Linked DNA regions of Homo sapiens: region 1 is linked to region 2. Evidence: fine-mapped expression QTL. A gene starts in region 2. The other region holds a variant in brackets. All regions are shown on one strand. Distances are from middle to middle.

Evidence for each region. PIP is the estimated chance that this variant, and not a neighbour inherited with it, causes the effect.
Region 1: its variant is the best candidate, but not a certain one, in a credible set for the expression of GLP1R in whole blood (TOPMed, PIP 0.58).

The regions. Positions count from the first base shown.
Region 1 is chr6:39,066,653-39,076,956 of GRCh38, forward strand. GLP1R (glucagon like peptide 1 receptor) reads left to right here. Exons shown (of 13, transcript NM_002062.5): 6 at 6,210-6,363; 7 at 6,958-7,117. MIR9983 (microRNA 9983) reads left to right here and starts at 7,662; the gene lies at 7,662-7,729. RefSeq lists an enhancer at 7,075-7,932. The variant T/TA (reference allele first, on the strand shown) is at 4,326.
Region 2 is chr6:39,043,846-39,054,149 of GRCh38, forward strand. It overlaps GLP1R (glucagon like peptide 1 receptor), which reads left to right and starts at 4,936. Exons shown (of 13, transcript NM_002062.5): 1 at 4,936-5,073. The coding sequence starts at 4,996. RefSeq lists enhancers at 5,620-6,120, 10,256-10,304.

The sequences.
Region 1 (10,304 bases), 23 kb after region 2:
CAGTATGATTTTAGAAAAGATCTTGGGGATTAGAGATCTTCCTCCCTTTGGAGCTTTTCAGCCCCAGTGGAAAAGTTCCTCCTTAGATCTAACCTAGATGAGACGTTCCTTCCAAACTAGGAGCTGGGAACAGAGTACCAGGTTCTTCCCACTCCTCTGCACTTGGAGAAGGGGGGCCAGGGGGACTGGGTTCAAAGAGGGAAGGGATTCTGAGAGAATGAGACCTCAGGACACCAGGCAGCAAGAGCAGGAGAGGTGGCATTCCCTCTCCTACCTTCAAAGCACCTGGCACAGTCCTGGGCACACGGTGCTCAATAAATGCATTCACTCAATGAATATTCTCCTCTTTTATTATGAATTATTCCAGTGATTCAAAAATGCAATGACTGATACTATGATCACTCATGCACACACCATCCAGCCTAAGAAATAACATGTCCCATAGTTACACTTCTCTGGGTAACCCTCTCTGATCCCATCCCTCTCCCTGCCCTACACCCATCAGAGGTAAGCCCTGAATGTGCCTCTTTTAATTCCGACACATTTCCTTGTACTTTTACCACATTTGTGAGTAGCTATAGAAATATATAGCAAGGTTCTGTGTATTTTTAATAGTGTATTGAACATATTTGTCTTAGTCTTTTCCTGCTGCTATAGCAAAATACCTTAGACTGGGTAATTTCTAAATAACAGAAATATATTCCTCACAATTCTGAAGGCTGTGAAGTCCAAGATCAAGGCACCAGCAGATTCCATGTCTAGTAAGTTCTTGTCCTCTCTTTCCAAGATGGCACCTTCTCACTGTGTCCTCACATGGCAGAGGGGCAAATGGGTGAAAAGCTCTCACAAACACCCTCAGGTCTCTTATAAGGTACTAATCCCATTCGTGAGGGCAGAGCCTTCATCAACCTTATCACCTAAAGGCTTCACCTTTTCATACTATTGCCTTGGGGACTAAGTTTCAACATGAATTTTGGAGTGACACAACATTCAAACCATAGCATTCTGCCCCTGGCCCCCCCAAATTCCTGTCCTCCTCACATACAAAATACATTCATTTAATCCCAATGGCTCCAAAGTCTTAATTCATCCCAGCATTAACTTTAAAGTCTAAGTCCAAAGTCTCATCTAAATATTATTTAAATCAGGTATGTGTGAGACTCAAGGGATGATTCCTCCTGAAGGAAATTTCTCTCTAGCTGTGAACTTATGAAATCACTGAAGTTATGTGCTTCCAAAATGAAATGTTGTGGCAGGCATTCTCATTTCATAGGACAGACATTCCCATTTCAAAAGGGAGCAATAGGTCTGCATGTGGTGGCTCATGCCTATAATCCTAGCTAATTGAGAGGCGAAAGTGGGAAGCCTGCTTGAGGCCAGAGATTGGAGACCAGCCTGACCGATGTAAGAGACCATTAAATAAATACAATTGTTTATTTTTTTATCTGGAAAAAAATAAAGAATTAAAATTCAAATAAAAAAAGAGAGAAATAGGAAGGAAGAAAGGGGTAACTGGTCCCAAGTAAATCCAGACTTAATGGGACAAACAACATTAAATCTTAAAGCTTGAGAATAATCTTCTTTGACTCAGTGTCCTGCCTTCCTGATATGGAGGTGGGAGTTGGGTCCCCAAGTCTCCCCGAAGCCCCACTCGCACAGCTTTGCTGGGTTCAGCTCATGTGGCAGCTCTCACAGGCTGGAGTTGTGTGCTGGTGGCTCTACCAGTCTGGGGTCTTGGAGGAGAATCTTGCCCCCCATGACTCTGCTAGTCATTGCCCTAGTCAGGACTCTCTGTAGCGGCCCCACACCTGTGCCTTAACTACTATAGATTTATTAGAAACCTCCACTCTGCCTGGGCCCTGAGGCTCTCCAGGATATCCTTTGAAATCTAGGTCTTCCTGGATTTCAAAGAAGTAACTATGTTCCCTACAGCTCGTGCACTCTGTGTGTCTGTAGAGTTAGCACCACGTGAACACTGCCGAGGTTTACTGCTACGTCCTCCAGAGGGACGGCCTGAGTTATACCTGGGCCCACTTGAGCCGCAGCTAGGGTAGCCAAGGAGCACTGCACCCAAGTGTAGGGAGCAGAGACAGGAGGTGGCCCTGGGCAGTGACTTCCAATGCCTCACAGTGTCCTGGGCTCCTCCCCCAGAACTGTTCTGCTCTCAAGACCCTGACATCTGGACCTGAAAGATCTCTGAAGTGCATTCAGGGTCATTCTTCCATTTTCTACCCATACTAATTTTATTAAATGTTCACTTGGCCACACCCTTGGTATTGTCTCCTGAACATGCTTTTGCATTCTTTACAATATGGTCAGACTGAAAATTTTCCAAATCTTTAAGTTCTCCTTCTCTTTTGATTATAAATTTCATCTTTCATTTCTCTCTTCTCATATTTTGCTATAAGCAGTCAAGGGCAGCCATGCTGTACCCTCAATACTTTGCTTAGAGATTTCTTCCACCAAATATTCTATTTCATTGCTCATAAGTCTTTGCTCCCATGAAACACTTGGACATAGACACAATTCAGCCAAGTTATTTGCCACTTTGTAACAAAAAGATGGCATTTCCTCTGGTCTCCAATGCCATGCTCCTCATTTCTATCTCAGACCTCATCAGAATGGCCTTTACTGTTCATATTTCTACCATTATTATGTTCACAACCACTTAGATAATCTCTGTGAAGATTGAAATTTTTGGCCGGGCGCAGTGGCTCACGCCTGTAATCCCAGCACTTTGGGAGGCCGAGGCAGGTGGATCATGCGGTCAGGAGATCGAGACCATCCTGGCTAGCATGGTGAAACCCCGTCTCTACTAAAAATACAAAAAATTAGCTGGGTGCGGTGGCGGGCGCCTGTAGTCCCAGCTACTCGGGAGGCTGAGGCAGGAGAATGGCGTGAACCTGGGAGGCGGAGTGAGCAGAGCAGTGAGCAGAGATCGTGCCACTGCACTCCAGCCTGGGCGACAGAGTGAGACTCTGTCTCAAAAAAAAAAAAAAAGACTGAAATTTTCTACATAGCTCTCATCTTCTTCTGAGCTCTCACCAGAATCACCTTGTATGGCCCATTTGTGGAAATATAGACTTTTTTCTATCCCACCACCCAGTTCCCAAGCTACTGCTACATTTTTAGGTATTTGTTACATGACTCCCCACTCTCGGTACCAATTTCTATCTTAGTCTGTGCCTGCTGTTATAACAAAATACCTTAGACTGGGTAATTTTTGAAAAATAGAAATTTATTTCTCATAATTTAGAGGGTGGGAAGCCCAAGATCAAGGCACCAGTGGGTTTGATGTCTAGTAAGGGCTTGCTCTCTGCTTCTGAGATGGTGTCTTCTCACTGTGTCCTCACATGATGGGGAAGGAGTGAACACTATGCCCTCACATCACAGAAGGCAAAAGGGCAAAAAGGGCTCACAAACTCACTTAGGCCTCTTTTATAAGGACGCTAATCCCATTCTTGAGAGCAGAGCCCTCATGATCTAATCATCTTCTGGAGGCTTCACCTCTTAATACTATCATTGCATTAAGGATTAAGTTTTATCATGAATTTTGGAGGAACACAACATTCAAATCATAGAAATATTTTTCTGTAATTTTTTGGTCCAACATTATGTTTGTGTGAGATTCATTCACATTGACACGAGCAGTCCTGTTTTGTGGATTTTTAACCACCATTCCATATTCCGTTGTATAATACAGCACAGTTTATCTGTCAACCTTTTAATGGACATTTGAGTTGTTCTCTTTTTTTCTTTCTGAATTACAAATGTTGGGTGCAATGTACATTCTTACTTGTGCATTTCTCTGGGGCATATAACTAGGAGTAGAATTGCCAGGTCTGACTACCACCTGCTTTCGCAATTTTACTATGTTAAGTTGTTCTTCACAGTGGTCACACCAGTTTACCCTCTCATCAGTAATAAAAGAGAGCTTCCTTTGTCTAGCCTTCTCACCAATATTTAGTGTCTTCAGACTTAATTGTTGCTAACCTGAAGTATGTGAAATTGCCTTATGATTTTAATTTGCATATTCCAGATTCCCAAAGAGATCAAGCATTTTTTTTCATGATTTTTTCTGTGAGTTGCTTTTTCATATCCTTTGCTTACTTTTTCATTGGCTTATTTGGGTTTTTCTTTTCTATTTTACATATTCATTATATATTCTGGATACTTATCCAGGATTTACCCTCTCTTTAGTCTGTGGCTTATTTTTTCACTCATTTTATGGTTTTTTATGCACAGAAGTTCTTCATTTTAATGGAATAAAGTTTATCAATTTAGTATTGATAAATAAAATTTATCAATAAAGATTAAGCAGTTGA[T/TA]AACAGTTAATTTTATTGATTGCTTTAAAATTATTCATTTTTTCCAAAGAACAAATTCTGGACAGTCTTATTAAGAAATCTTTCCTTGGCTGGGTGCGGTGGCTCACGCCAGTAATCCCAGCACTTTGGGAGGCTGAGGTGGGTGGATCACAAGGTCAGGAGATCGAGACCATCCTGGCTAACACAGTGGAACCCCATCTCTACTAAAAATACAAAAAATTAGGTGAGCATGGTGGCACCCGCCTGTAATCCCAGCTACTCAGGAGGCTGAGGCGGGAGAATCACTTGAACCCAGGAGGTGGAGGCTGCAGTGAGCCGAGATCACGTCACTGCACTCCAGCTTGGGCGACAGAGCAAGATTCCATCTCAAAAAAAAAAAAAAAAAAAAAAGAAAGAAAGAAAGAAAAAGAAATCTTTCCTTACCCTAGTGTCATAAAGATGGCCGTCTATATTTTCTGTAAGTTTCAGAGTTTTGCTCTTCCTTGTGGTTCTTTGATCTGCTTGGAATTCATATTGCGTATGATATAAATAAAGGATTTCATTTTTTTTTCTGTATGTGGAATTAGCTGCCTGAGTACCATTTATTGATAGCCTTTCCTTCCCCCTTGGTTTGCAATGACTGCCATTCCATGCAGCAAGGCTCCACGTATGTATGGGTTGGTTTCAGTCACCTACAGTTTTTTTCTGTTTATCTTTCCCTGTCCGGATACCATGGTGCCTTAGCTACTGTAGATTTACTAGAAATCATATAGCAAAATCTCCTCCTCTGTGATTCTTTAGGAGTGTCTGGAATATTCTTAGCCCTGGCTCTTCTTTATAAGTTTTTAAAGTTCTACTTTAAAAATAAGGTAGAATTTTTATGAATACGGAGAGACTTGACTCCTTTAAGGTAGCGAGTCTTTCTATCTGTGAATGTGATGTATCTATCTCCCACTAGTTTAAGTCTTCGCTAATGATTTTAAGCAAGATTTATAAAATTCTCCATCGAGATCTTACCTATCTTCTGTTAGACTCATTTCAAGCTAGTTAATTAAAAATATTGCAAAAGAATTATTTCTAAACATTTACTTTTAAATTTTTTTAACGCAGGCATATACAAACATACTTATCAGCAACCTTGCTAAACTGTCTTATTAGTTCTAATAATTTGTCCATAGATTTCTTGAATTTTCTATGAAGATAATCTACCATCTACAAATAATAACTATTTTGTTTACTTCTGATTCTTGTACATTTTTCCCTTGCCTTATTATAGTGGGCAGGATCTGTAGTTACAATGTTGACTAGAAGCAGTGATAACAGACATCCTTATTTTGTTCCTGATTTCAAAGGAAATGCTCCCACAGTTTCTCAGTTAAGATTGATATTTGCCCCTGGTTAGGTAAATAGCCTTCATTAGGTTAAGAAATGCCCCTGTACTTTCAATTTGCTACACATTTTCACATGAAAGGATATTAAAACTCTATCCAATAGTTTCTGAATTCCTACCAAGTGCCTAGTCCTGCTCTGCCTCTGTGAGGCATTTAGGATGTGGGCCCTGTCAACAAGAAGCAGTGTTCCCACTGGGGAAACTGATCCTCATGCATAAATCTCTTTGGTTATGCAAGACTTTGTGTCAAAGAAGATGCTGCAGAGAGAAGGATAGAATGTGGATGGGAGGAGGGGGCAGTGACTACATAGCGGAAGCCTTCATGGAGAGGCAGGATTTGAGTTGGACAGAAGGATTTTCACGATGATGAGGAAGAAGGGTATTCATAGAAGAAGACACACGCACAGTCCCAGGGCTGGAAACATGCCTAATGTGTGTGTTAGCTTGAGAGCCTGGGGTTGTAGAGCAGAACTGTTGGCTGCCTTGCCAGGGAAAGGCCCTGCTTTCTCCCTCAGACACCTGCACTGCACCAGGAACTACATCCACCTGAACCTGTTTGCATCCTTCATCCTGCGAGCATTGTCCGTCTTCATCAAGGACGCAGCCCTGAAGTGGATGTATAGCACAGCCGCCCAGCAGCACCAGTGGGATGGGCTCCTCTCCTACCAGGTGTGTGGTGCATCCAGGACCGCCTCAGGAGGGATGGGCGGTTGGAGGAGGCCTGCCTCTGCCACCCTAGACAGGCCTGGGACAGGAGAAGACAAGAGCCGAACAGTCCTGGCCCTTCGGGAGCCCCCAGTCTGATGGGAGAGGCAGTTCGCCTTGGGACCCTCCAGTCTGCTGAGAGAGGCAGTCTACCTTAGGGAGCTCCCAATCTAAGGGAGGAGACACTGCCCTAGGGAATTCTCAGTCTGACACAAAAGAGTAGTCTTTGGAGACACACTTGAGTTTGAATGTCAGCTCTGTCACTTACTATCTGTACACTTTTAGGCAAGTCACTTACTTCTCTGAGGCTGAGAAATAGGTGAGAAGTCACTTACTTCTCACCTGCAGGGGGATACATTACTTTCTTCCAATCAGGATAGTGAGGATTCAATGAGCTAAAGCAGATAAAGTCCTTAGCACTAGCCCTAGCCAGAGATGTGAGCTCTCTCCTCCTGCATTAACCATGGCAGGATAGTGGCTGGAGCAGGACGGGGAGTGGTATCAAGAGAGGCAGAGGGCAGAGCTGTTGTCCCCATGACACCCTTCCTCTACCCCCAGGACTCTCTGAGCTGCCGCCTGGTGTTTCTGCTCATGCAGTACTGTGTGGCGGCCAATTACTACTGGCTCTTGGTGGAGGGCGTGTACCTGTACACACTGCTGGCCTTCTCGGTCTTATCTGAGCAATGGATCTTCAGGCTCTACGTGAGCATAGGCTGGGGTAAGAACCGCCATCACCCACCCTGGACCTGTGGCACGGGGGTGGGAGACCTTGACCCCTCTTCTAACATGGTACTTGGAACGCACTGCTGAGCAAGGGGCAAGGCCCACTGGGTAACCCTCTTCCTGGGCACAGGACCTTCTGCCCCGGTGCTGTTAAGATGCCGTAGGGGGTTATGGTCCTCCCCTCCTCTGCATAACTCTCCTCCCTTAATGGAAGCCTCCACCGCATGTGGCCAAACACCACCCTCTACCACTATCATGCACACCACTGGAGGTCATGGCACTGTTCTCTTAAGACCACATGGGGACATAAGTTCACACCCAGTCCCGGGCAGCCCGAGGGCCTGAGGGAAATGGTGAGTCCTGGGCCTCAAGGTGGGGAGGGGATCAAGAGGGTAGGGGGCTGGCTGGGGGGAGCCTGCTGGTGCTCTGTCACATGACGATGAAGAGGAGGGCTCAGAGGAGAGCCAAGTACAGTGGGGCAGGGGGGCCAGAGGCCAGCCAAGGAAAGGGTGGACGGCGGATGTGCCTGGAGCCCAGCTGGAAATGTTCTAGCCAAAAAAGTTTGCCAAGAACCATTGTGTCTTTTTTTTTGCTGGAACATTTCTGGTTGTGCTTCTGCCTCTCACCACGTGGGATTGTAATGAGGGGCAGCATTGGGGTTGGGAAGGGGGCTGGGATCCCCTTCACCCCTGGGAAAACATGCAACAGGCCTTTCTGGAGGGACCCACGGTACCCAGAGAATAGGCCCTGCCCTCTGTCCTCCCTAATCTGCCATTGAATCCATGAGTTTTCCTGTTCCACACCATCCCCCGCCCTGCTTGCCACTCCTTCATTCACTCCTCCTTCCTTCATGCGCCCACCTCACGCTGCTCTGACCACGGCTGCCCCTGCCACGGACCTCCGGGGACTTTCCAGCTCAGTCACATCCAGACTCCTCTTCCCTGACAATGGTCCTGTCCCTGAGCCTTTGCAAGGCTGTTCTCCATGCAGGAATGTTCAGGGAGCATCCTTCCCACACCAGGGTGTCCGCTGCCTCTTCAGGAAGCTGCCTCAGGCCACCAGTCCTCGTGGTTCTGTGCTCTCTGCCCTCTCAAGCTCTCCATCCCCTGTCCTTGCACTTCATTTATTTTTACTGGTGTTCCTCAGCCATTTTTCTCTATACAGCTCCCCCCACCCCCCAGGAGAAGAGTAGCCTGAGAGATTTTAATGTGACCAGTGTCTTGAGGACACCAAGGCCCAGAGCTGGCAGGGCCTTACAGGCAGAGCAGGCCCTGGAACCCAGGCCTCCTGACTCCCAGGCTCTGGGCCTGCGGCCATCATGCCCTGTTCTCTTGCCTGGGCTGCATCCCTTCAGTCCCCTGCAGCACCCCTGAGCAGGCTCAGGCCTCTGCACAGGTGGGCAGGTAGGCCTGGCTCCTGCTCACAGATCCCTGCTCCTCACCTGCCTCCTCCACTCCCAGAACCCAGTCCCTTCCTTGGCCTTTTCTCCCCGAGGCTTCTTCCTCCTGCTAGAGCAGGAGGAGGGAGGCCATCGAGGGCAGCTCAGGGAAGGCTGTCTTCAGGGTGGGGGACGGTGTCTGTCCATTCTAGGAAATAGCATCAGCGCTGTTAGTGCCTGTCACCATGGCGACCCGAGGGCAGGAACAATCAAGGGACGTGTGTGATGTGTGCAGAGGAGCGGGGGTGGCTGGAGTTTGGTGGGGACACACTGCCCTAGAGGTCTCTGAGTGGGAGATGGGGGAGGGAGTGCCAAGTCCTTTTCCTACCACCTCACACCCTAGCTCAGGGCTCGGGGTCTGTGGGAGCACAAGGGCAAGACCCGGAGGACACCCTGCTCTAATCAGAACACCTTTTTCTTGAGGATTGGGGTGGGGGAGACGGAGAGAGATTCACAGGTTGCTAGGAGCTCAGACGTGATGCCAGGAGGCCTTGCCCAAGCTGGGATACTTGGGAAACAACTTTCAGCTTCATGTGCAAGTGGAAGAATTAAAATTAGGACTCTGACACAGTTGGAGAGGTCCCCCAAAGGGCATGGCAGCTTCTGCTGCAGTCCCCAGGCAGTTGGGGGCCTGTAGAAACCCACATGGAGGCTGTGCAAGAGGGAGGCAAATGATGGTTGAGGGAATCATTACTTCCTGGAGCCAGTTGTGTGTGTCTTAATTTGAGCTTTTTTCTCCAACCTGTCTTGCTCGTTTTCTAAATGGGAGAAAGATGAAGCCAGCAGGGAGTGCGTAATGTTTGCATGCAGCAGGGCTTTCGTGACTGTGTTTTTTGAAAAGGCCTTGTTAAGGAAATGCTGACGATGAGTGAAACTTGCCAGGTCTGGCTGATAACATGGGTGAGTGCCCTGATCCTGGAAGGAGGTCTCAGAGAGAAGGGACAGCAGGGGGCGAGGGATACCCAGAAGGAAGCTTCTGCATGTGTACGTGGTTCAGGAAATCGGCATGCTCTTGCCCAGACAATGTTCCTTCCCTTATTGGTGTGTTGACTCACCCATCATTCGTTCCATTCTCACTGGGCATCTTCTATGTGGCAGGGCCTGTACCATGTGCTGGGGCCTTTGGAGACCATCCCATTCCTTGTCCAGTCTCATAAAGGCCTGTTACTAAAGCACCGTAGATGCTGAGAGGTCCGATTTGTGTAGAAATCAATGGGCCAGGAGAGAGAGAGCTGATGAAGAATGCTGGTCCGCTGGGGGCTCCTTTGCCTCCTCCATCTCTCCCTGCATCATCAGGCACAGTAGATCTGGGCACACAACCTGCTTAGTAGCTGCTGTTGAGTGGACACTGATGTGCTAAAGACATAGACAATGGTGACAGGAAAGGCTATGAAGTGGTTCTGTCCTGGAAATGTGCTCCAGGCAGAGATTCCCAAAGTCATACGTGCACACTCATGGTCCACCCACCACACCCTCACACACACATGTCTACATACCTTAATATGCACATGCTTACCTATCTCAGACACATCTCCAACACTGAGGGAGGGGCCAACGGAGACGAGCATGGAGACAGCCAGTGCAGAAGGCCATTGAGGGCGGTGGGAGTGGGTATGGGATTGCAGCCCTGAATTCGAGCCCCACCTGTGCCCTTCTGAGTCCCTGATCCATCTCCTCATATGTCATGTGAGGAAGGAAAATCCAATTTTAAATCAACCAACACAGACCCTGAGCTCTCAGGGTG
Region 2 (10,304 bases):
GAGGGGTAGAGCCCTTACCTAAAGAGGCATCCTCTCGTGATACCCCCCTTTGCCCCCAGGACTTGCTGGCAGCCAGGTTCTCCTGGCAGAAAGTGGATTCCTGGCCCACTGCTGAGGTCTCTGCCTTCTCTCAGCAGCAGATCTTCAGACTGTCTGGCAAGGGCCAGCCTGAGGGCGATGGTGAGCATTAGATGAAATAACACATATACAGCTCCTAAAACAGTGCCTGGCTCAAGGCAAATGCTCGGTAAATATTGGTTCTTATTACTGGACCCATTTTATACCAAGGTTTAGTGCTATTAAGGATACAGAGTAAGTGACTGAGATGGATTTGACTGTCAGACTCTAAAAATCTGTGTTTAGGTATGTGTATGCATGTGTGTTTATATCAGGTTGAAAAAAATGCTGGCTCTTTCCTTATTTCATCACTCAGAAGATGAATGTGGTCTTGAACTTTGGGAAGTAAATGAGTTTCTTAGGGACATGGAGCTTGGAAAGAAACCTGAACTATGCGTGCAAGAGATACCTGTCCTGGCCGGGCTCAGTGACTCATGCCTGTAATCCCAGTACTTTGGGAGGCTGAGGTGGGTGGATCACTTGAGGCGAGGAGTTTGAGATCAGCCTGGCCAACATGGTGAAACCCTGTCTCTACTAAAAATACAAACATTAGCTGGGCATGGTGGCATAAGCTTGTAATCCTAGCTGCTTGGGAAGCTGAGGCACGAGAATCACTTGAACCCGGGAGGCGGACGTTGCAAGGAGCTGAAATTGCGCCACTGCACTCCAGACTGGGTGACAGACCGAGACTCTGTCTCAAAAAAAAAATTAAAAAAAAGAAGAGACACCTGTCTTTTCTAGCAATTCCCTTTCCTTCCCTCTCCTCCTCTCCACTCTACAACCTCCCTCTCTTTTCCTGCCTCTCTCTCCCTCCTGCCTCCTCTCAAGTGAAAGATCTGTCCTGGGCCGGGCGCGGTGGCTCACGCCTGTAATCCCAGCACTTTGGGAGGCTGAGGCGGGAGGATCACAAGGTCAGGAGTTCGAGACCAGCCAGGCCAACATGGCAAAATCCCATCTCTACTAAAAATACAAAAATTAGCTGGGCGTGGTGGCAGGTGCCTGTAATCCCAGCTACTGGGGAGGCTGAGGCAGGAGAATCACTTGAACCCAGGAGGCGAGGTTGCAGTGTCGCCACTGCACTCCAGCCCTGGTGACAATATGAGACTCTGTCTCAAAAAAAAAAAAAAAAAATCTGTCCTGTCCACTGACCTGGTCTTCCTGCTAGGGACAAGGTTTTCCTGTTGAAGACAAAAGAGGGCCGGGTGGCCTGCTCTCAGGTCTGCCTCCTTGGCGAATGGGCCTTACAGCACCTTTTCCTCAGGAGCACACATCAGTTGCTCCCATTCCTATTTCTGAAGACAATCTCAATACCACATTTTCTTAGTGGAAGCTGAGGGCACCCCACGCTAGGGTCACTGGAGAAGCCTTGGGCCTAAGGGTAAGGAGCAGGACCCGGAGCTCTGGGCTGTAGAGCGAGGTGCTCCCGGACAGGCTGGCTGAGCTGCAGCCTGCATCCTCTGTGCTGCCACAAATTCAGCTGCCTATTGGGGGTGTCGGCACCAGCTCTCAGGGCAGGTGGACCTGGGATGAATGCCCTGTTTGCTTTTATGGGCAACTCACTTTTCATACCTGAGCCTCGGTCTCCTCATCCATAAAATTGGCACAATAACACTTGTGCATAATACTGGATGAGATCAGGGTACACCAAGCATTCAGCAGCTCCTGGCCCAATAAGTAGTAGCTATTGTCTTTGTTTTCAAGGGTTTTTGCTTGTTTGTTTGTTTGAGATGGAGTCTTGCTCTGTCACCCAGGCTGGAGAGCAGTGGCATGATCTCTGCTCCCTGCAACCTCCGTCTCCTGGGTTCAAGCGATTCTCCTGTCTCAGCCTCCCGAGTAGCTGGGATTACAGGTGTTAACAGTTTACCAAACAGTATGCCATCCATTCAAATCTCTGCTCTTAGGGAGCTCATCCTTTCCTCTGCTCTAAGGAGCCTGAGTGAGAGGCCCTGGTAACAGCAAGGGGAAAGAAGGAAACTGTATTCCCGAGTCCATACTCTGTCCTAGCATCACAGCAAACTCAGAGGTTTTTGGACCCCCAGATGTTAAGAGGAGGGACAGGCCCTGAGCTTCCTAAATACCCTCATATGCCCACTGTCTTCAGCTGGGCTCTCCCAGAAGCAGATCCTGAGATAAGGATTTAAGGACAAATTATTTATTTATTTTTCATTTATTTTATTTTTTGAGACGGAGTTTCACTCTTGTTGCCCAGGCTGGAGTGCAATGGCATGATCTTGGCTCACTGCAACCTCCACCTCCCAGGTTCAAGCGATTCTCCTGCCTCAGCCTCCCGAGTAGCTGGGATTACAGGCATGGACCACCACGCCCGGCTAATTTTGTATTTTTAGTAGAGATGGGGTTTCTCCATGTTGGTCAGGCTGGTCTCGAACTCCCAACTTCAGGTGATCCGCCCACCTTGGCCTCCCAAAGTGCTGAGATTACAGACGGTGAGCCACCATGCCCAGCCAAATTGTTTATGTGAGGTGTGACCCCGGAAGCACTGGTACCCTACTGTGGGAAAGTGGGACAAGTGAGGAAATGAAGCCAACACAGGGTGCATTACTGAGCAGGTAACTGCTGTGGGAAGCTGGGCTCCATCGCACAGGGGACCTCTGGGAGACTGTGGTACACACCTCTGGATGGGGTATTTATCCATCCACTCCTGTCCATCCATGGTTGACAGCTGCTCTTAGGGGTACCTACCCTGCACTGGCTGAATGCAAAAATGTTCTCCAAGTCAGAGAAAGCCCCCTGGCAGAGAAAACATGGCCTTATAAGTACTGGGGGCATTTGCTTACCATAATAGTGCTTACACAATTATAAATGACTCCAATAATTATTTAATGTTTCCCTCCTGTATTAGAATATAATCTCTCTGAAGATAGGGACAGCATCACCAATTGTATCCCCAGGACCTAGAATGGTGTCTGGCACATGGTAGGTTTTCGATAGATACTTGCTGAATCAATGTAATCTGGAGGCTGACAAATTCATGATAAAGACCCCAGTTCTGTCTGAATAGCTTCTCTATCTCTTCCTTTCTCCTCTCTCCACCCTAAACTTGATATAGCAGTGCCTAAAACTCACTTCCAGTATCTTTTTTAAAATTTGCCTTCTTCTAGAGTATAAAAGCCCAGTATTTAACCTTGCCCATGGTTGCCTGGAATAGAGGGTGCTTTTCCCACCCTCCTTTGCAGCTAGCAGTGCCTATGTGACTAAGTTCTGAGCAAGAGGTGTGGAATTGATGGCTGCCACTTTCAAGATGTGTCTTTATGGGTGGAGGTGCACCCATCTCCTTCCCATTCCTCCTTCCTGCTGGTTGGAATTTGGATATCGTGGCTGGAGCAGCCACCTTGGATCATGAGGTGGAAATCTTGGACCAAAGGATGGTGGAAGCTAGAAGACCCAGGCACCCTGATGATCAGGGAGCAGCCACTCCAACCTTGGGCTGAACCTCTGGCCTTGCTTTACATGAGAGAGCCCTTGGTTATGCCATTGTTGTTTGGGGTGGGATTTTCTGTCACTCCCAGGTGAACAACCTAATCCTAAGTGATACCTAGAAGGTCCCTGCTAGACTGACCTCTTGGGAGGGGAGGGAATAAACGAGTCTCAGGTGGTGGAACCAGAGCTTGCTGGAGAGGAGAGTCTCTCCTGGTGAATGGAAGCCAGGGGCCCCTCCCACTGGCTGTCTCCTTCCCTGGGCTCAGGCAGGTCCAGCCTTCCTCAGGACTTTGAGAAGTTCAGTTCTCTCCCCAGGAGTAGCTACTTTCACAAACTTCCTGTCCCTTTAGTCGACATGCCCCACGGCAGGTCCGAGGCTGGGCTCTGCCACAACTCATCTTTCCTAAGAGTGGCATCAAGGTTCTTTGGTGGGGGATCCTCTTTTCCCATCCCCACTTCTCAAGAGCATTAGGGAAGATACAGTCAGTGCCCTCTTAGCATTCTCTTTCCACTTGTTGGGTGTAAGAAGGGAACCTGAGGGCCCTGCAGTGTTTAGGGGTGGGAGTGGAAACAGACAGGAAAGATCCAGAGTCCCCAAGAAGCGAAGCAGGGAGAGAGATAAAGAAGGCAGGAACAACCATGGACACACATTATCACACATACACAGGTTACAAGAGCAGGAGGCTGGAGCTGCAAGAGGTGGCAGGGAAGCTTCCAGAAAGGCAGACCCCAGCCTCATCCCTCCCTGCCCTGCAATGCTGAAGTTTCCAGGTAGAGGGGAACCTCTAGACCCTTGCGACTGTCAGAGTTCTGTGGATCCATTTGTCAGTCTCCCCACCCCCAACCTTGACTATCCTGGGCCTGCCTTCAGGACAGAACATGGGAATGAGAAGAGGACCTGGGAAGGGGTAATCCTGGGAAAAAAAAGTTCTTATTAGTCACCCCTGGCTCTGAGGATACTTTCCAGGAGTGGCCTGCCAAGCCGTGTGACCTTGGACAAGTCCCGTCCATTCCTCAGGCCTCAGTTTCCTTTGAGGGACCCTGAATGGGCGGGGGTTGCTGTAGCTTTCCTCAGCTGGGAGACCCGGGAGGAGGTCCGGGGTGCCAGGGTGGGAGGAGGGCCTGGCTTGTCGCTGAAAGCCGGCCAGGCGCACTGTCGGCGCTCAGAGCTGGTGGCCGCCTCCTGCGCTTCCTGATTCCCAGCCGCGCTCGCTCGGAGAGCAGTGCCCGCTATCTCCTGGCCCGGGACCGGCAGAGGGGTGCGGCGGGGCGGGCCCAGGGGTCTCTGGCGGCCGGAAGAACCGGGACCCTGCCAGGCCCCTCCCGCGGGCAGGGCGGCCCCTCGCCGGCTCCTCCCCCACCGCCCGCCACCAGCCCGGGATCAGTCTCCGCACGCGGTTCCGCAGGTGGCAGCGATGGCCCAGTCCTGAACTCCCCGCCATGGCCGGCGCCCCCGGCCCGCTGCGCCTTGCGCTGCTGCTGCTCGGGATGGTGGGCAGGGCCGGCCCCCGCCCCCAGGTGAGATCCAGGGACCCCGACGACACCGGGGGAGGCGGGTGGCTCTGCGGGCTGCAGGCGCAGTGTCCTGGTGGAGGGCCCCGGGACTTGAACGAAACTCCGAGACCGCTGGCGGGGGCATCCGAAAGCCTCGGGGGGAGTAGGGACTGGAGACTTGGTGCCCCTGGGCTGGAAGGCCCAGGTGAGGGCTTGGACTACAGAGGATTCCCCCCAACCCCAGCGAGGCGCCCTCTTCCTCGCCACCCGGGTCCCTCTGCCCGGGCACCCGCTGCCCCGCGGCCGCCCTGCGCTGACTTCTGCTCCGCTTCTCCTTTGTCCCCAGCACTTTCCCAACTCCTTCTAAACCGTGTCAGCGGCCCTGGCACAGCCCGGCATCCTCCCGGACTCCCTCTGCCCCACAGTCTGACCCAGACCCCTCTCCCGCAGTGCCTCCCCAGACAATCCACCTGCTCAAAGACCCTGAGAAGACCCTGGGAGGAGCTGAGAGGGCCAGGGTGCGGAGACCCGGCTCCTCTCCCTTTCTCATCAGCCCCCAGCACAGCCTTTGATTCATGGCTCCTGGGGCCCTGCGGTGGCAGCTTGTCCTTCCCAGTGACCTCCCAGATGGAACCTACCCCCCGTCCCCTACCAGCCTCTGTAGCAAACAGGCAGAAGGCTCAGTGCCCCCCTGGAAGCAGCCAGGCGCCCCCACTCACCCACTCTGCTGACCTCCCATTCTCATCCTGCACTGACAGCAGGCCCCAAGAGAAGGCATACTGGGACACGCAAGAACACCTGGGCTCCTTGGTGCCACCAGAGAGCAGGCCACAGGTGGACCACCGCAGCCCCTCTCTCTTGCCCTTGTTGCTTTTCCTGCCCTGGGATCCTGGGCTAGGGACAGTGGTCAGCTGCTTTTGAAGAGGGGAGCTGTCCAAAGATGCTGGGACTTGCTTGAGCAGAGAGGAGACATAGACTTGGGTGGCCTGTCCTGGGTCAGGAAACAGGTTCTTCCTATCACCTCCCACTGCTACCCCCAGACCTAAAGAACTGAGATCTGTGGGGAGTGGACCTGAACGAACCTTGAAGTTTGTCCCAGAACCATTGCCTTGGTGAGGGCAGACTCCACCTCGGCGGAAACCCCAGATGTGGACAGACATACCTCTCAGCTAAGATGCCAGCACATTTTTCAGCCCCCAGATTATTTTCCAGACGCATCCTCTCCCTGCCCCTGTTCCCCAGCCCAGCTGCTGTCCTGAGCCCCAGGAGACAACCTCCCCCTTCCAAGACACCTTCCTCACAGCGCCCCCAGCCAGGCCTTGGTTTTCCTGGTGCGGCTGGGATCTTTCAGGGGCCAGGGCTGCAGACCCAAGATGTGGTTCTTGCCCATCGTTCCCTCCTCTTACGGACTGGGTTGGGATAGGGGTGGAGGCTCTGCTTCCTGGTTCCATCCTCCTCCAGGCCAGGTTTACAGGTCTGGTTTGAATGAAGGGAAGAAAGCAAAGGGAAGAGGAAAGTTTCTGTGAGCTGTCTTCCCAGAGGCCTTATTCCCAGAAGTGTCAGGCTCCTGAACCCACACTTTCCTCTGATCCGATTTTACTCCTTAGCCCCAGGCCTAAGGCAAAAGCTGGGCATCCTGGGGGCATAACAGGATTGGGGTGGTAGAGAAGGATAGGAGGGGACAGGTCCTAGCAGGGAGGGGAGCTTTGAGGGGGTGCTCTTGTCATGGGAAACTGAGCTGCCACAGAGATCTGAGTCACAGGAGGTGTTAAGGATAGATTGCAACAATTATGACACAACATCATGCGTGCTTATAAGACTAAAAAATAGTGTATTTTGCATTTTGTTTTCTGTCTATGAAGTCAAAAGGGTTAGAGTTACTCCCCTCATGTTGCTGATGGGGGAATGAAAGCTCAGAAAAAGAGGGTCCCCTGTATAAAGTAGCCCAGCAGTTCAGGAGCAGGGAAGAGAAAGGGGTGAAGGGCTGGGCTCTTGACCTAACACCTCCTACTCAGACGGGACTGAAGGGAGACCTCTGAGAGTGAGCTGCTCACTGTCAGGTCTCGTGAGGCTGGAAACAGCATCCCTGCAGGTAGGGGGATGGCTGAGTTGACTTCTGAAGAAGGTGCCCTAGGCTACTCTTTCATTGCTGCTGGGAAGGCTCATTCCCCTACCCTGGTCCTTACCTCTCCAATACCCTGGTGAGGGAGCGGGCCTACTGAGGAGACAGGCAAGCCTTTGACACTCAAAGTTAAAATCAGACACAACTGGATTCAAATATAGGGTCTGCTATTAGCTGGTGATCTGGAGTTGGACACTTGGTTATCCCCAATACATGTCCTTATCTGTAAATAAGGATCATAAGCTCTATCACATAGGGTTATGGAGGGGATTGAGACACTGGCCCCTGAAATGGCAACTTTAGTCACTTTAGTCAAATGGCAGAACTGACCCATTTGTCCTTGGGGATCCAGAAGTGTTTTCCAGGGCTGCAGGATAGTATGAGAGAGGGGCTGTTGGAGACCCTGGGTCTCTGTACTCTAGTGAATGGCAGGTGGAGTCCAGGGCTGAGCCTTGATCAGTGCGGACATTGTTCTAAGCTGGGTTTCCTCCTGGACAGGACCCAGGCTGGGGGCTGGGGCAGGAGCAACCAAGAAACCACATCCTGCCCTCGAATGCCTTGCACCAAGGCAAAACAGGCTTCCTCAGCTGCAGCCTGCCCCTAGGAAAATTCCTATGTGTGTGTGGTGGTGGTGGTGGTTGGAGGAGGGGACAGAGATACAGACAGGTAGTCTGAGACAGACCAGGGGGAGAAGGGAGTAGGCTATATGAACCCCCAGTTCCCAGGTATGTGTGAGTGACCCTGTGTGTAACAGTCTGTGTGGGAATGAGTCCCTGTGTGTGCAACATCTCAGCATGCAACTGTACATCTGACAGTGTCTATGTTTTTGTGACCCTGCATATGATACTGTGTCTGTGGGAGGGTCTGTGTGTGTGTGTGGGGGGGGGGGCATCTTGGTGTGTGAATGGGTGTCAACTAGTGTGTGTCTATATGTGCAGGAGAGATAGTGTGCATGTGAGAGTGTCTGTGTGTTCCTCTGTGTGTGTGTGTTGGGGACAGTGTCTCAGCATGCGACTGTGTACCTGGCAGTCTGTGAGTGATTGTGTGTGGTGGGAGAGAGTCTGTGTCAGTGTCTCAGTATTGGGAATGTGCTTGGGGGCGTGTGTGATGATGCGTGTGACCGTGTGTCCACGTGGGGGTTTTTGTGACTGTAAGAACATGTGTGTAGTATTCCTTTTCCTGTCCTTTCGTTCAGATATCTAAAGCCCTTAGGGAAAAAAAATGGATTGTAAGCTCTGAGCTTTTGAAAAAAAAGAAAGAAAGAAAGAAAAACAAGGGGCGGTCAAAGAGACAGGGGTCTGTTGATGGAAGGGGTGATTTGACTTCTGGGAGGTGACACAGAGGAAGGAGGTTGGGGTCCTGGGAGGAGATGCCAGGGAACCTGAAGGGCTGGACTTAGTTGGGGGACTCCAGAAATTTGAGTTGGAATCCCTCCTTCCTCCTTCTGAGAGGCCTTCCTGCATGTCTCCCACCTCTGTGCCACCTCCTTCCCGTCACCAAAATGGTCCCCAGAGAAAGAAAGAATCTGATACACTTATTCGCACTGAGAAATAGGAGTGCCTTTCAGATTGGCAGCCAGTGTTTGGAGAGGGAGCCCCTTCCTGGGGTGTTGGAAAGCCCACCACCCCGGGGGCTTCCACTCCACCTGCTTCCTTCTCTGCTGTCCTTCCTTCCAACGCTGCCTGCTTGTACAGGGCTTGAGAAGTCACAAAGATTTTCACCTGCTTTATCTTGTTGGATCTGTGCAGTTTGAGAAGAATGATATGCCCATTTTATGGACGGCAGAACTGGCAACTGATGAGGAAACTGAGGTCCTAAAAGATAAATCGTGTCCCACAGTCCTGCATTAACAGAGCTGGGATTTAGACCAAGAACTTATAAATCGCTGTCCAGTGCTCCTTCCTGTAGACCACACCACTCCCTCCTGGTGTCCTCTTTCCTGTCTCCTGCTTCCTCCAAAAACTCCTGAATCTGAGGGATGCCCCTTCCTTCTTGTAACCTCCAACCCAGGTGTCGTCTCCACGTGCCTTCATCCACCTCAGAGAGATCCCATGAAGCCTGTCAAGTCTTGATTCTAGAAACTGCCATCCTGCCCTTCCCATGGCCCTTTAGACCCCCTCTGACCGCTGCTTTGCTCTCCTGGTCAGCTCTGCTGCCTTGTGAGGGACAGGGACATCTGGATTGCATCCTTCCCGCTACCCAGAACCCACAGCCCCACCTTGTCAGGCTTGCAGCAGGGACTTATGTTGTGGGAGGATGAAATGGAGGAGTGGGGGACACTGGTGGGCAGGGCCTTGCCCCTCCTCACAGGGCATGGGGTCCAAAGCTTCCTCCCTGCTTCACTTTGCCATTGGCTGTGGTTACTGCTGGAAGATCTCACAAATTAAGCAGAATGATTGGTCATTGGACATGAACATATATTCATTTCCTCTTTCTGGGAATATGTTGATCCTAGAAGTGAGGAAGGGGTGGGGCCCCAGTCCCCAGGAAGCCTGGTCACTCCCTCCCACTCTGCCCTTTCCACTAAACAGTAGAAATCATGGGGATTGCTGCCATTGACTGAGCCTTCTCCATGTGCCCACCATCCTAAGCATTAACTCAGTCCCCACAGCCATCCCATGGGGGAGGGGCTGCTGTTCCCTTTTGCACAAGTGTAAGCTGAGCCTAAAACATACAACTCTTGCACTCGGTTGCAAACCTAATATCTGGGTGACCCAGGTCCAGGCCCAGATCTGAGCCCAAGGCCAGGGTTGTTCAGCCTCCACTATGTTACCTGGGCACCCAGGCCCTATGGCACTGGGTGGCCCTAGCCTCATTTACTCAGTCTTTCCCCAGACCAGAACCTCCCATCTGTCCCAGGGCCCACCACCACTCTCTCCCTGCCCCAAAAAATCCTCCTGATAACAGTCCACAGCTCTCCTCTGCTCTCCGGAGCACTGATGTCCCCACCTTTGTACCTTTTCCCTGCTGTGCCCTCCTGCTGAAGTGCCCGCCCTCCTCCTTGCTAGCCCAGTCTGCCTCCAACCCCCTTCACCCCAGCCCCACCTCACAGTCCCCAATCCCTCAGGCCTCTTGAGTCTGCACTGAACCCTGCCCCAACCACTCCCTGAACACTTTCACCCACTGCCTTCCC